Linked DNA regions of Homo sapiens. The protein of the gene in region 4 purifies or fractionates together with the protein of the main gene of each other region. This does not show direct contact. Each region holds a gene or a part of one and is shown on either strand. Other genes may lie near its edges.

Region 1 (3,500 bases), on a different chromosome or scaffold from region 4:
TGTTTAGCATATCATCAAGAAATAACCATAAAAATGGGCAACCAGCACCAGGCAACCCTCAGGTCTGCTCTGTCTGTGGAGTAGCCATTCTTTTGTTCCTTTACTTTCTTAATAAACTTGCTTTTACTTTATTCTATGGACTTGCCCTGAATTAGTTCTTGTGGGAGATCCAAGAACCCTCTCTTGGGGTCTGGATCGGGACCACTTTTCTGTAACATAACCACTAGAAAAAACAAAATACTTATTTCTGAACTATGAAAGAACAAAAAAAGAAACATTTATTCAAACCAACAAAAAGAAAAGGCTAAAAAAAGCATAAACAAATAAGAATAATTAGTAAATAAAACAAAATGAAATAGCAAGAATGAGTCCAAAAATATCAGTAGTCACGCAAAATATCATCTTTCTTGAAACAAGAAAGATTTAAAATAGTAAGCAGTGAACTCAAAACCTATTAAAAAAATAAAATAAACATGACCCAAGTAGAAAGGAATCAAGGTTAAAAGAACTTATTAAACGGAAATGTACTCCCTATACCGGCTTTTAACAAATTCCTCTGTTAACAGGTCACACCTCACTTCCACCTCCCACAGAACCTCCAATTCACCTTTCAAGACTCTATGGGGCAAATCTATTTGGTTCTTGATGCCATCCTCGTTGGCAGCATTTAGATTTTCACTTCCTCTGCTCTACTAAGTCAAGTTAACACTTTTCCATCTGCTTTAAAACTTCAAAAAAAAAACACAACTCACATTTACTCTTCTCATGTATTCTTTGTCCTTGTATATTTATACTTTTATTCTTTCAATATCATTTTTTGGAGTTTGGAAAATGACAGAAATTTCCATTTCCTTACTTAATATCCATTTTGCCCTACTTTCTCTTACTAAGATTGCAATCTCATTGAGGAGCAATGATATGCTACTTTAAAAATTCATTTATCACACACTTTTGCAGTAGGGATAGTCACATGACATAGTTCAAGCCAATGGGATGCAAGTAGAAGTCACTGGGTGGGGCTTTCCGGGGAAATCCTTGAAGGTGGCATTCATGGAACATGCTGCCTTGACTTTTCCCTTCTTCTCACATGGAATGCAGGCATGATGAAAGTTAGTCAACCATTTTATCTTCATACAGTAACAAGCTCATGATGAGCTTAATGGAGTAGAAAGATGAAAGGAGTTTATGATTCTGATGACATCATAGAGTCACCACCCATGCCCAGTATAGTAAGAAAGTAAAAATTAATTAAGACTGAGAAAGTAAAAAATTGTCAGGCTGGAATAACAGGCACTAATCAGGTCAGCTACAAAATTAACAAAAACAGTATTTCTCCCAAGGACACTCTACAACTATAAAATATTTCAACAATCCCCTTCTTTTAGTGACTGCTATCTTCTTACTCACTGAGAAACTTCGTTCTCTAAATTCAGAAACTATCAGAAACTTTCCTGTCTGAAATTAGATCAGTAAGAAACAAACATTCCACTCTTGCCTAGAGGTTGCACGTCACTTTGACAGAGAGAAGCAGCCTCAATTATACAACCAAGGTGCTGAACTTCAGAGAACTTCTAAGAAACATTTCCCATCTCTTTTAACTTTGTTTCCAAAGGAACGTGACCTTGGTCTACTTCACAGTCCAGACCTAATGTTGGCCCATTTATACACACCCTTGTTTTGCATTGAGACAATCAGAATACTGCTTCCCCTAAATCCCACTCAAACTTCACTCTTCCCCAAATTATATAATAACTCCATATATTCCTTTATTTGGTGAAATTTAGTTTGGACTGAAAAAGTAAAAAATTATCAGGCTGGAATAACTGGCACTGATAAAGCCTGCTATAAAGTTAACCCCATGGTTCCCCTGGTATACTGTCTCCTTCAGGGCAATTAAGTCAACAGACTTAACTTTTTTTCACTACAAGTTTGTCTCTAAAGGTCTTGGGCTGAATAGCCTAGCTCCAGATTTCTTGTCATTTGAAAAGCAAAATCTCTTAAAGTCACTGCTTTCAGGTCATTTTTACTCACAGTAAATTGATGGTAGGAGGTAGATCAAATAGGTTGAAAGTAAAAGAATGAAAAATGAGAGACTATGCAAAAAAATAAAACAGAGTTGGAGCGGCTATGTTAATATCAGAGAAAATCGACTACTGTCCTATTTGGTTTCAATTAGTCTCGAAAGTTCCCTTGGTGATTCTACTGTGACAAGATTTAAGGCCAAGGGACAGCAGTGTTGAGAAGGCTAATAATGGCCAAAGGCAATACACAAAGAAGCTGGGTTTCCCTAAGAGAAAAGGAAGGATTAGGAGCATTTAGGATGCTGGTTCTTTACATGGGGGAATACTGGAGATAAAGACTGCTTTGTTAGCAGTGAAATATGACCCATACTCATGAGCATTCTTTCTCAAGCAAATGTGGCTTGGAGAAAGAGACACACTCGGAACAACTGGCTTATATATCAAATTTTTAGTATTCATCCACAATAAAAGTTATCTCACCGCCTTTAGTCTTTGAGCATGGTATTCTGCTGCTGAAAAATACTTTCCTGGTGTTACCAGTTTATCAGTCATATTTGATACATATACACCAATGTTAGTCATCTGTGTGGATGTTGTATTTGTAGTTTGTTGGAGATTTTTTTTCTGAAAAACTGTCTAAAAGAAAACATTAAAAATTTAAATCAGTATCCCCTATATATATACATAAGGGAGTTTTTCTACATATGTGAGTTCATTTTCTTTTATTAATTGCCATATAATTACTTAAGAGAAATTTGAGAGAGTCATACAGTACAATTATTGAGTCTATACCTTCAAAAACCTAAAGAGACAAATAAAAACATTACCTGCGTATCCCTACAAAATATACTGAGTCTTTCGGGAATCCTTTTAGGTACAGTTTGTGTTCCAGCATTGTGATACTCTACTCCTGTTACTTTATGTCTGAATCCACCAAGAAATGGTTTGTGAAAGTCAGATTTGACAATCTCAACAGGTACCTGCTGGTATTGATCAAGTCCTGAGAGATAACACCAAGATTCAATGAAAGCTCAACCAAGAAGGGACTCAAAAATACTTTATCTAAAAGACATCAAATAACGAACCAGTTTGGACAGTGACAGTTATGATTTGAGAGACATCAGTTAATCCATCTATTCTTCTGACTGGATACAGATCTGGATTTGTAGAAAAGATTTCCACTTGTACAATTTCCTGTGGCTTAACTCCATGTTGTACTAGAGTCTCATTATTTTTAAGAATTTTTCCTAAAAATTGAAATAAAATTTTTAAAAGTTTTATGACAAAGAAATGGCTATTCATTGATCTTATTTTTTGTTTTTAATTGACAAATAAAAATTGTATATATTGTGTACAGCATGCTTTGAACTATGTATACATTGTGAAGTAGCTTAATACAGCTATTAACATGTCCATTACCTCATATACTTATCATTTTGTGGTAAGAACACTTAATATCTATTTTCTTAGCAATTTTCA
Region 2 (3,500 bases), on a different chromosome or scaffold from region 4:
TGATAAGCTCACTGTACTTGTGAGCCTTCTTTAGCACGTGCTCGCTCTCCTCGATGTGGCAGTGATTGTTCTCCAGGCGTAGCAAGGGGGCCACCAGGGCCACATTTGTCTGCAGAAAGAGCAGGAGTTCAGTGGAAACTGCTTCCTGGGGAGCCCCACCCTTCCCTGGCCCAGGCCTGCTCTAGGCTGAAAGGCCAGGAATGTAGCACAAGCAAGAGAAAGCAGACAGCCCTCTTTCAGGACAGCAGGTAGAGGCTTTTAGAGCATTTATGGACCTTCGCACAATGTGTTTTAATGTTCTGTGGGGGAGAACATTTCTTGAAGGAAATACTGTCCCAGCTGACTTTGTAGCACTAACTGCAATCCGACCAGAGAAGATGAATCCACTGTACAATTGTGCATTGATATCTTGCCCTATCCTCTTAATTCCAAGAGACTCACAGACATCAGGAGAAGTCTATATGGTTTCCAGAATCAAAGACTTCACTCTTACTAATGGCAGGTCCCTCAGGGTCTAGCACTCCCTTTTACTTTCCCAGACTGTCAGGGTAACTGGGAATTGTGGCACCCGAGCGCTCAGGTAACTCACATGGAGATAGCACTTGAGCAGGGTGGTGTCGATGATTTGTAGCAGCTTCTTCTTGGATTTGATGGTGGGAGTGCCTTCCATGAGCGGTGAGGTGCTTGACTGGTGATCAGAGTCATTCAGCTTCTTTACCAATTGACTTCGTTTCTGCAAAGGTCAAAATGTGGGGTTAAGGCCAGGACTAAGTCTTCCTTTGTCATCTGAGCTACTGGGTAATTCTGAATACCTCCAATCAGCTCATGCCTATTGGCCTGATCTCACATTAGCATTCGATTTTTAGCACTGCCAAATTGCCACAGAGACAACAACAATTATTTATTGAATATTTACTACAGACCAGGCACCATGCCAAGCACTTTATATATACCATCTTAAACCTAAAACAAGTGCCGATAATATTATCCTTATTTTACAGGTGAGGAACCCAAGGCACAGGTGTCAGCTGCTACATAAGGGGTAGGGCAGGATTCACACTGGGGGCTGACTCCAAAGCCCATGTTCTTTTATTTTTTTAAAAATCAACCTTATTGAGGTATAACTTACAATAAAATCTAATCTTTTAAAGTGTACCATCAGATACATTTTGACAGATGTGTACATGCATGTAACCACCTCAGTGAAGGAAGATAACATTTCTATCACTCCAGAAAGTTCCTCGTGCTATTCCCAAACAATCCCACCTACTGATCTGCTTTTGATCCCTGGAGATGAGTTTCTGCCTATCCTAGAACTTCATCCAGTATGTATTCTCTTGAGTCTGGCAGAGCCCATGGTCTTGCTCTGCCATCTCTCTGGCACAATACTAGTGTCAGTTACTTCACACATTCCCATTGTCAGTGAAGAAGGCCAGGGAAGGACGTGTGCTCACCTTCCTACAGCTAAGACATTGGCAGTGGAGGGCCTTCCACAATGCCACTGGCTTTGGGAGATAGTATGCCCAGGAATCTTTTTTACTTAGCACAGTGTGTGCAGTGTGTAGGCAGTGGCAAGTTTGTGTGCTCCTTGCAGGCTGCCAGCCCCAGGAGGGTACCCCTGGAGCCCAATGTCAAGGAAGGGCCAAGGCCACCCATGCCTGATCAGACCTGCAGGGACTCACTGACCCAGAGGCAGGGAGTGGAAAGTGGCATGACAATTTTTCCAGCAATACTTCTTCTTTTTTTTTTTTTTTTTTGAGACAGAGTCTCACTCTGTTGCCCAGGCTGAAGTGTAGTGGCGCAATCTCGGCTCACTTCCACCTCTGCCTCCTGAGTTCAAGCAATTCTCCTGCCTCAGCCTCCTGAATAGCTGGGATTACAGGCGTGGGCCACCACACCCAGCTAATTTTTGTATTTTTAGTAGAGACTGGGTTTTGCCATGTTGGCCAGGCTGGTTTCGAACTCCTGACCTCAGGTGATCTTCTGTCTCAGCCTCCCAAAGTGCTGGGATTACGGGCATGACCCACCACACCCGGCCAACAGCAATACTTCTCAGTGCCTACCCTAGAGCATTCTGGAGACCTCTTACAAAGATCTGCAAAACACTTAAGAGGAAAAAATATCAATAAGGTCTCTGATTCTGAATGGGTACACAGGAAATAAACAATAGCCTTCTGTGACAGAAATCTAGGGTTAAGAGACTTTAATGGAGATGCTGGCTTTAGTGCTGACTTAAAAAATGTATCTGTCTATAACAGTAAATCATAAAAAATTTTAAATCTAAATACCTCCCTAAAAAACATGTTATATAAGGACATTTATTGATAAGGAAGTACTTTCTCAGTATATGGCTAAATTTTTAAAAAGTTAAGCTATAAAACAATCTACAATTTGATATCCATTTGCAATAAATAAACCAAGAAGTAAATAAACAAAAGCTAATTCATAGATATACAAGTCTAGAAGGACAACACTAAAATGTTAGTTTCTTACATTCTGGTGGTAGAGTTATAGGTAATTTGTATTTCTGCTTTGTACTTTTTTGTGTGTGTTTTCCAAGTGGTTCCACATACAGGAGGCATTTTCCCCAAAACCATGTATATTACAAAAAGTTTGTTTTAAAAAAACTTGTATGCTTCTATCAACTAAAATTTACTTTTTTTAGTTTCTATAACAGCTTTGTGTGAATTTACTAGGAATTGGGTGTGTTTATTTTTATCAAGATTTGGCAGAAAACCCCACCTCAATGGTACTGTAAAGTTAGAAGTAGCAGAAAGAAACTTTACCCCAGGCAGACTTCCTACAGCATTAATTTACAGACTGCCTTGGCATTAGAGAAGGCCCTCAATTCCTTGCCACAAAGAAACAAGTACTGAAACTCCCAGGCAAACTCTTTCACGCACTCTGTACTATACCTACCTGTGTCAGGTAGTCAATCAGAGCTAAGTGAGCCTTCTCCAATTCAGCCCCGGAGAGCACAGGCAATGGGTTGGGATACTGCAACTGCTTTCTGTAGTCTGTGGGCAGCAGGTCAGGGTACAGGCCCATCACATGGGTGGGATCTATATGGAAGGTAAACATGATTCCTCTGGAAAGGAGCCCAACAATTTAGGGATAAAATAAAACAGGACTATTACTATAGCAAAATAAGTTCCAGACTGATTTAAAAAAAAAAAAAAGACTCTCAGTTCATAAACATTCAACGAGCTGTAGACTTATGATTTGAGCACTTTTTATACATATGTTAAAATTCACTAAAACATCACAAAAATGCCTGACTATATTCAAATACACACACATAATTAGAATTGAATATTTATCAAGCCTCTGAAAGTAGAGAATAAAAAATTTCTAAGGAAAAATGCTGATATTGAAGTAGAAGAGATCAAGAGACTCAACAATAAAAAATTTAAGTCAAAAAAAGAAACATTACTAAAAAAAAAGACAACAGGCTAGGGAATATATTTGTAGTATATATGGCAAGAGGCTAATTTGTTGAT
Region 3 (2,203 bases), on a different chromosome or scaffold from region 4:
CCCTGATCCCACCTGCTTCTCCTGAGCAGGGTTTATCAGTACAGGAGAGTCAGGGTATCTGAGAGCACTTCCTTCCTTACCTGGCCTCAGATTCTCCACACTCCAAAGTATGATGCATGATCTGAGTTACTCAAGACAAAATTCAGGGAGGCAGGTTTAGCTTCTCTCTTCCTTTTTTTTCTTTAGACAGGGTCTTACTCTGTCGCCCAGGCTAGAGTGCAGTGGTGCAATCATGGCTTGCTGCAGCCTCGACCTGCTGGGCTCAAGTAATCCTCCTGCTTCAGCCTCCCAAGTAGCTGGGACTACAGGCGTCCACCACCAGGCCTAGCTGATTTTTGTATTTTTTGTAGAGATGGGTTTCACCCTGTTGCCCAGGCTGGTCTCAAACTCATGGGCTTAAGTGATCCTCCAGTTTTGGCCTCCCAAAGTGCTGGGTTACAGGCATGAGCCACAGCACCTGGGCCCCAAAAGAACTTTTACAGATAACTGACTCCTCAAGCTCTGGTAAAACAATTTATTACCAAAGCACAGAGGTGTCAAGGGTAGGAGGGGTCCCCCCTGTGGGCCGGCCCAACCCCATCCAGCTTTGCTAGGACACTGGCTGAAGGGCAGGCCACCAAGATGGGGAACTTCACATTCACGGGAGGGAAACTGGGGCCCTCCGGGAGGCTAATCAGGACTGATGAGTATCCTGAAACCAGTGGCAGGAATGCACATTCCAGGGCTTGTTCTAGAAGCTTATCTGTGATTAAACAGCAGGCCTTGAGTCACATTACTTCATTTTTTTTTTTCTGTTGCACACTGCAAATGGAAAGTTCTGGAAGACAATAAAAATGCTGTTAGTGTCTCATTCATTCAAGGAACACCCTCTATGCCTTCACTTCATGCCAAGCACCTTCTAGGTTCTGGGGATGTCATCTTCTAGGTACTGGGGATGTCATCATGACCATACGGGATGAGGAGCCCCTGCTGGGCTTAGGATGAGGAGGAGGCGGGTGGAGACTACACACTAAACACACGCTTCCCTCCAGATGGGAACAAGGGCTGTGTGGAAAACAGGTGACATGATGAGCAAGTGGGTGGGGAGGCAGTGAGGATGCCTCATGGAGGATGGGGAAGGCCTCGGGTCTTGAGAAGCAGCAGGTACATAAAGCCAGGATGAGGGGAGCTTTCCAGAACTCGGGATGGCAGGTGCAAAGGTTCCGGGGTGGGGTCCAGCTTGGCCTGGTCTAGAATCAGAGGGGCGGGGGTGTGGCTGGTGCATCGTGCACGGGGGAGGAAGGGAGCTCGGCCTCGGGCCAAGGCAAGGAGCTGCTGTGGAGCACAGGCAAGATGACCTTCAAGGTGCTCGAAGATCACTGGGCTCCTTAAATGCCATCTCCTCGTTATGTTCCCAACCAAGGGGCTGAGTGAGTGGCCTCCAGGGAGCGCGTGGGTGTGAGACGGTGGAGACCCTGGGAGGTTGTCAGGTGTCAGGTTCTAAATGCCCTTTGCCCTGGGTGAGGAAGGCACTGTGAGACACAGTGGCACTGACGACGGGAAGCCTGGGCTCGCTCCATCGATAAACAGGATGAAGCCTCTGCCCTGTGCCATGCCAGAAAAGCAGAGATGACAGAGTCAGACGCGACCCTGCCCTGGAGGAGCTGGCTGCCAGCAGAAGACTGTGACAAGTGACCCCGTGGTCAGTCTCACCCGGGACCGAAGGTTTGGAGGAGGCTGCTGGGGGAGCAAGGGTGTTGGGGAGGACCCCGAGCTGTCTGGCCTGGATAACTGGGTACACGGAGGAGCTGTGTATCGAGCTGGAGAGGTGGGGGAAAGAGGGAGATTGGCACAGGTCATGACTTTACTCTCGGCACCACTGGTTGAGGCAGAGAGCCTGCTACTCCACCACGGAGAAAAGAGTCCCCACCCCTCACCACTGGCCCACTCTGTGCGCAGGTGCTCCACGAATCGCTTGACACACACGTGTCAGCTCAGGTTTCAGCCTCAGATGTAAGGAAACGTTGTGGGAATGCAGAAGCACTTGTAATCCAAGCGCCAAGAAGAACGTCGCTGCGCCGGGAGACAGGCCGTCAAAAGGAGATGCTGTTCAAGATGCCCTGCGACTAGGATCTCACAATCGTGGTGCTGCTGACCACGGGGCCGGGGGATTCTTTGTGGGGTGGTACAGGTGGGCACCGTGCTGCATGTCACAGGATGTCAG
Region 4 (3,500 bases):
TGTTCCCAATCTGAAAACACTAGCCTCCTGTGGGTAAGCCAAAAACCTTTCCATGTATGAAATGATGGAAAACAGTGGGTCTCAACCTTTTTGCAGTGCCTCACATCCAGAGGCAGATTTACCAAGCCACTGAAACTTAAGCTTCAGGACTCTTTCTCTTGCACAGATTCTCAAGGCCCAATATCTCATTTTCTGTTTCAAAAAATATTTTCCTTAAAGGAGGCCCTCTGAATTGCATAAGCTTCAAGTGTCAGAGAATCTAAGTCTGCCCCATCCACATTACATAAATGGGGCTTTTATAGTATATGTCACTTGAGAAAATACATAATTCAAAAAGCTACTTTGAATTCAGTAATACTAATAAATTTGTATTTTATTAATCAAAGAAACATCTAATGTTATTCACTGTATAAAATTTGTTTGAACTAAATAGATCTAAATATAATATTTGGTCCACATTTGGATTTTGGATTCTTGTGCTCACAGCAAGTAACTCCACAGTCAACAGGGCTAAATTGAAAAGATCATTACAGATTAAGGTTGCCAGAATTAAAGACATACCTCTAGAAGCTGGTGACCTTTAGAAAAAAACACTTTCTCTGTATTAGTGAAATACAGAGAATGATTCTTTCACAAGTATACACAGTACAGCTTAATGTGCTACCATTTTTCTCAGGCCAAAGTAATAAACCAGGCTCCAGCTGCAGCCACCCTAATTATCCCCCACTGTATTCTTCACCAACAAAGTCAGCTTCTCTCAGCCTGTTTCGGAAAAAACCCAAAGCAGTCATTCAAAGGAACTGGCTTGTGCATAAAGGGAGATGAGGCCTGGAAGGACACTGGGCCAGGAGGAGCCTGGCGCCCTAAGAGACAGAGGGGTAAATGAGGCCCAGAGAGCTACAGGTTATTAGCATAAGAGATTCATTATGAGCAGAGCTAGAATGGAACTGAAATCAATGAAGACTAGATAGAATTTGTTCGTGCAAAGCCTGGGAACCCTTTGATAAAACCAGGTGTAAAGTGTGGGAAGTTTCTAAGGAGAAGGACTTTTTTTTTTTTTTGAGACAGAGTCTCGCTCTGTCACCCAGGCTGGAGTGCAGTGATGCGATCTTGGCTCACTGCAACAGCCACCTCCACCTCCCGGGTTCAAGCAATTCTCCTACCTCAGCCTCCCGAGTAGCTGGGATTACAGGCATGCGCCACCATGCCTGGCTATTTTTGTACTTTTAGTAGAGACAGAGTTTCGCCATGTTGGCCAGGCTGGTCTTGAACTCCTGGCCTCAAGTGATCCACCCACCTCGGCCTCCCAAAGTTGTGAACCATGCGGTGGCACAGGCGTGAACCACTGCGCCCATCCAAGGAGATGGACTCTTTAAGCTAATTGACTTCACAGTAACTAAAGTTCAATAAAGTCTTTAAGGAGACACTATTAATTGCATGTGTAGAGAACTCCATGACATTAATAAAAATGACAGTATCAAAGTATCTCCACTAAGGCATTTATTAACTACAAAGGAAAATATAGTAGTTTCACAATGGAGAAACCCAGCAGAAACTACCTTAACCAAGTGATCAAGGTCAAAATAACCAGTAATAATACATATTGACATCATGAATGCCATGATATGATGCACTGAAAAGGACACAATTATTTCTGTGGTATTCTTGCCTAAACCATAATCTCAGTCCAATCATCAGAAAAATATCAGACAAATCCAAATTAAGGAATATTTGACAAATAGCCCTCAAACTGATATTGATCAATACTCTACAAAAATGTCAAGGTTATAAAAGACAAAGAAAGACTAAGAAACTTTTACAGAATACAGAAGAGTAAGGAAGAAAAACACCTAAAATGCAATGTGAGATTCCAGATAGGATCCTGGAACAGAAAAAGAACAATGCAGCTTGTGCAAGATGGCGAAACCCTGTCTCTACAAAACAAAGAAAATTTTTTTTTGAAACAAAGTTTCTCACTTGTCACCCAGGCTGGAGTAAAATGGCGCGATCTTGGCTTACTGCAACCTCAGTCACCTGGGTTCAAGCAATCCTCCTGCCTCAGCCTCTGGAGTAGCTGGGATTACAGGCGCCTGCCACCACGCCCAGCTAATTTTTGTATTTTCAGTAAAGATGGGGTTTCACTATGTTGGCCAGGCTGGTCTCAAACTGCTGACCTCGGGTGATCCGCCCGCCTCAGCCTCCCAAAGTGCTGGGATTACAGGCGTGAGCCACTGCACCTGGCCAAAAAAAATTTTTTTTAATTAGCCAGGCTAATGCTTGCCTGTAGTCCCAGCTACTCAGAAGGGTGAGGCAGGAGGACTTTTTGAGCCTGGAAATTCAAGCCTGTAGTGAGCTATGACTGTGCCACTGCACTCCAGCCAGGGTGACAAAGCAAGACCCTGTCTTTAAAAATAAAAAAAAAATAAATTACAATTTAAAAAAACTGAAAATAAAAAAGGAAAAATAATAATGGTAGGCAAACTGGTGAAATTCAGGAAAGCTCTTTAGTTAATAGTGTTATACCAATACTATTAATTCCTGGTTCTGATAAATGTATTATGGTTATATAAGATGGTATCATTAGAGGTAACTATTTTTCCAACTTTTCTATAAATTCAAAATAAAAAACATTTTAAATTATGCAAATAATTCACTGAAGAAGATGGAACTTTGGGCCCAAAAGGGATTGAGGCATTTGGGAAATAAATATTTATATGTCTAAAGGTAGATGGACCAAGATTGATTTATAGGAAAAGAAGAGATGTGAACGGGCACAGTGGCTCACGCCTGTAATGCCAACACTTTGGGAGGCCGAGGCGGACAGATCACGAGGTCAGGAGCTCGAGACCAGTCTGGCCAACATAGTGAAACCCCATCTGTACTAAAAATACAAAAATTAGCCGGGCGTGGTGGCATGTGCCTGTAATCCCAGCTACTCGGGAGGCTGAGGCAGGAGAATTGCTTGAACCAGGGAGTCGGAGGTTGCAGTGAGCCAAGATCACGCCACTGCACTCCAGCCTGGCAATGGAGTGAGACTTTGTCTCAAAAAAAAAAGAAGAGACGTTGACGTAGTTTGTGATCCTACAATCCACTGAGGGTTATATGTGAAACCTCTTGGTTTACTGTTTAATATCACAGTATGGCAATTATTGGGTGTTTTATTAGTTCAGAAACCTGTTTCTCAGAGCTAAATGTGCGCAGAATGAATTAACAGAGAAGTTTAAAACTCAGCAACATCGGGGTAAGTAAATGTAAAATGATAGCGGTCTTGTTAGGATGATGAAATTATGGATTTTTTTCCTTTTTTCTATTTTCTAAATTAACTATAATTTATAAATAATCTATAAACTATCATTTCCTTAAAATAGGGGTTTAAACACATTTTCCCTAAAAATAGAGTGAAAGGACTTGAGACCAGAGATAACCGACCATTGAGACCCGTAATATCCTAACAATATGAAAGCTGGTTAATAATTGGTAACTATTTCCTATTTAGAAAC

The links. Proteins that work in one complex are often made in the same cells at the same time.
Region 1: the proteins of USP54 (region 4) and IQUB purify together in Homo sapiens (co-immunoprecipitation; one large-scale study listed by IntAct). This does not show direct contact.
Region 2: the proteins of USP54 (region 4) and VPS39 purify together in Homo sapiens (affinity purification with mass spectrometry; 2 studies listed by BioGRID and IntAct, with this or other methods). This does not show direct contact.
Region 3: the proteins of USP54 (region 4) and VRK3 purify together in Homo sapiens (co-immunoprecipitation; 2 studies listed by BioGRID and IntAct, with this or other methods). This does not show direct contact.

What each region holds. Positions count from the first base shown.
Region 1 is NC_000007.14:123,500,096-123,503,595, forward strand, and holds part of IQUB (IQ motif and ubiquitin-like domain-containing protein), read right to left. Parts: intron 3,269-3,500; coding exon 3,107-3,268; intron 3,022-3,106; coding exon 2,849-3,021; intron 2,658-2,848; coding exon 2,502-2,657; intron 1-2,501. UniProt on the Homo sapiens protein: Adapter protein that anchors the radial spoke 1 (RS1) complex to the A microtubule of outer doublet microtubules in axonemes. The triple radial spokes (RS1, RS2 and RS3) are required to modulate beating of the sperm flagellum.
Region 2 is NC_000015.10:42,166,805-42,170,304, forward strand, and holds part of VPS39 (vam6/Vps39-like protein), read right to left. Parts: intron 3,063-3,500; coding exon 2,920-3,062; intron 734-2,919; coding exon 590-733; intron 110-589; coding exon 1-109. UniProt on the Homo sapiens protein: Regulator of TGF-beta/activin signaling, inhibiting SMAD3- and activating SMAD2-dependent transcription.
Region 3 is NC_000019.10:49,975,968-49,978,170, forward strand, and holds the end of VRK3 (serine/threonine-protein kinase VRK3), read right to left. Parts: intron 818-2,203; 3' UTR 501-817; downstream 1-500. UniProt on the Homo sapiens protein: Plays a role in the regulation of the cell cycle by phosphorylating the nuclear envelope protein barrier-to-autointegration factor/BAF that is required for disassembly and reassembly, respectively, of the nuclear envelope during mitosis.
Region 4 is NC_000010.11:73,581,343-73,584,842, forward strand, and holds part of USP54 (ubiquitin carboxyl-terminal hydrolase 54), read right to left. Parts: intron 1-3,500.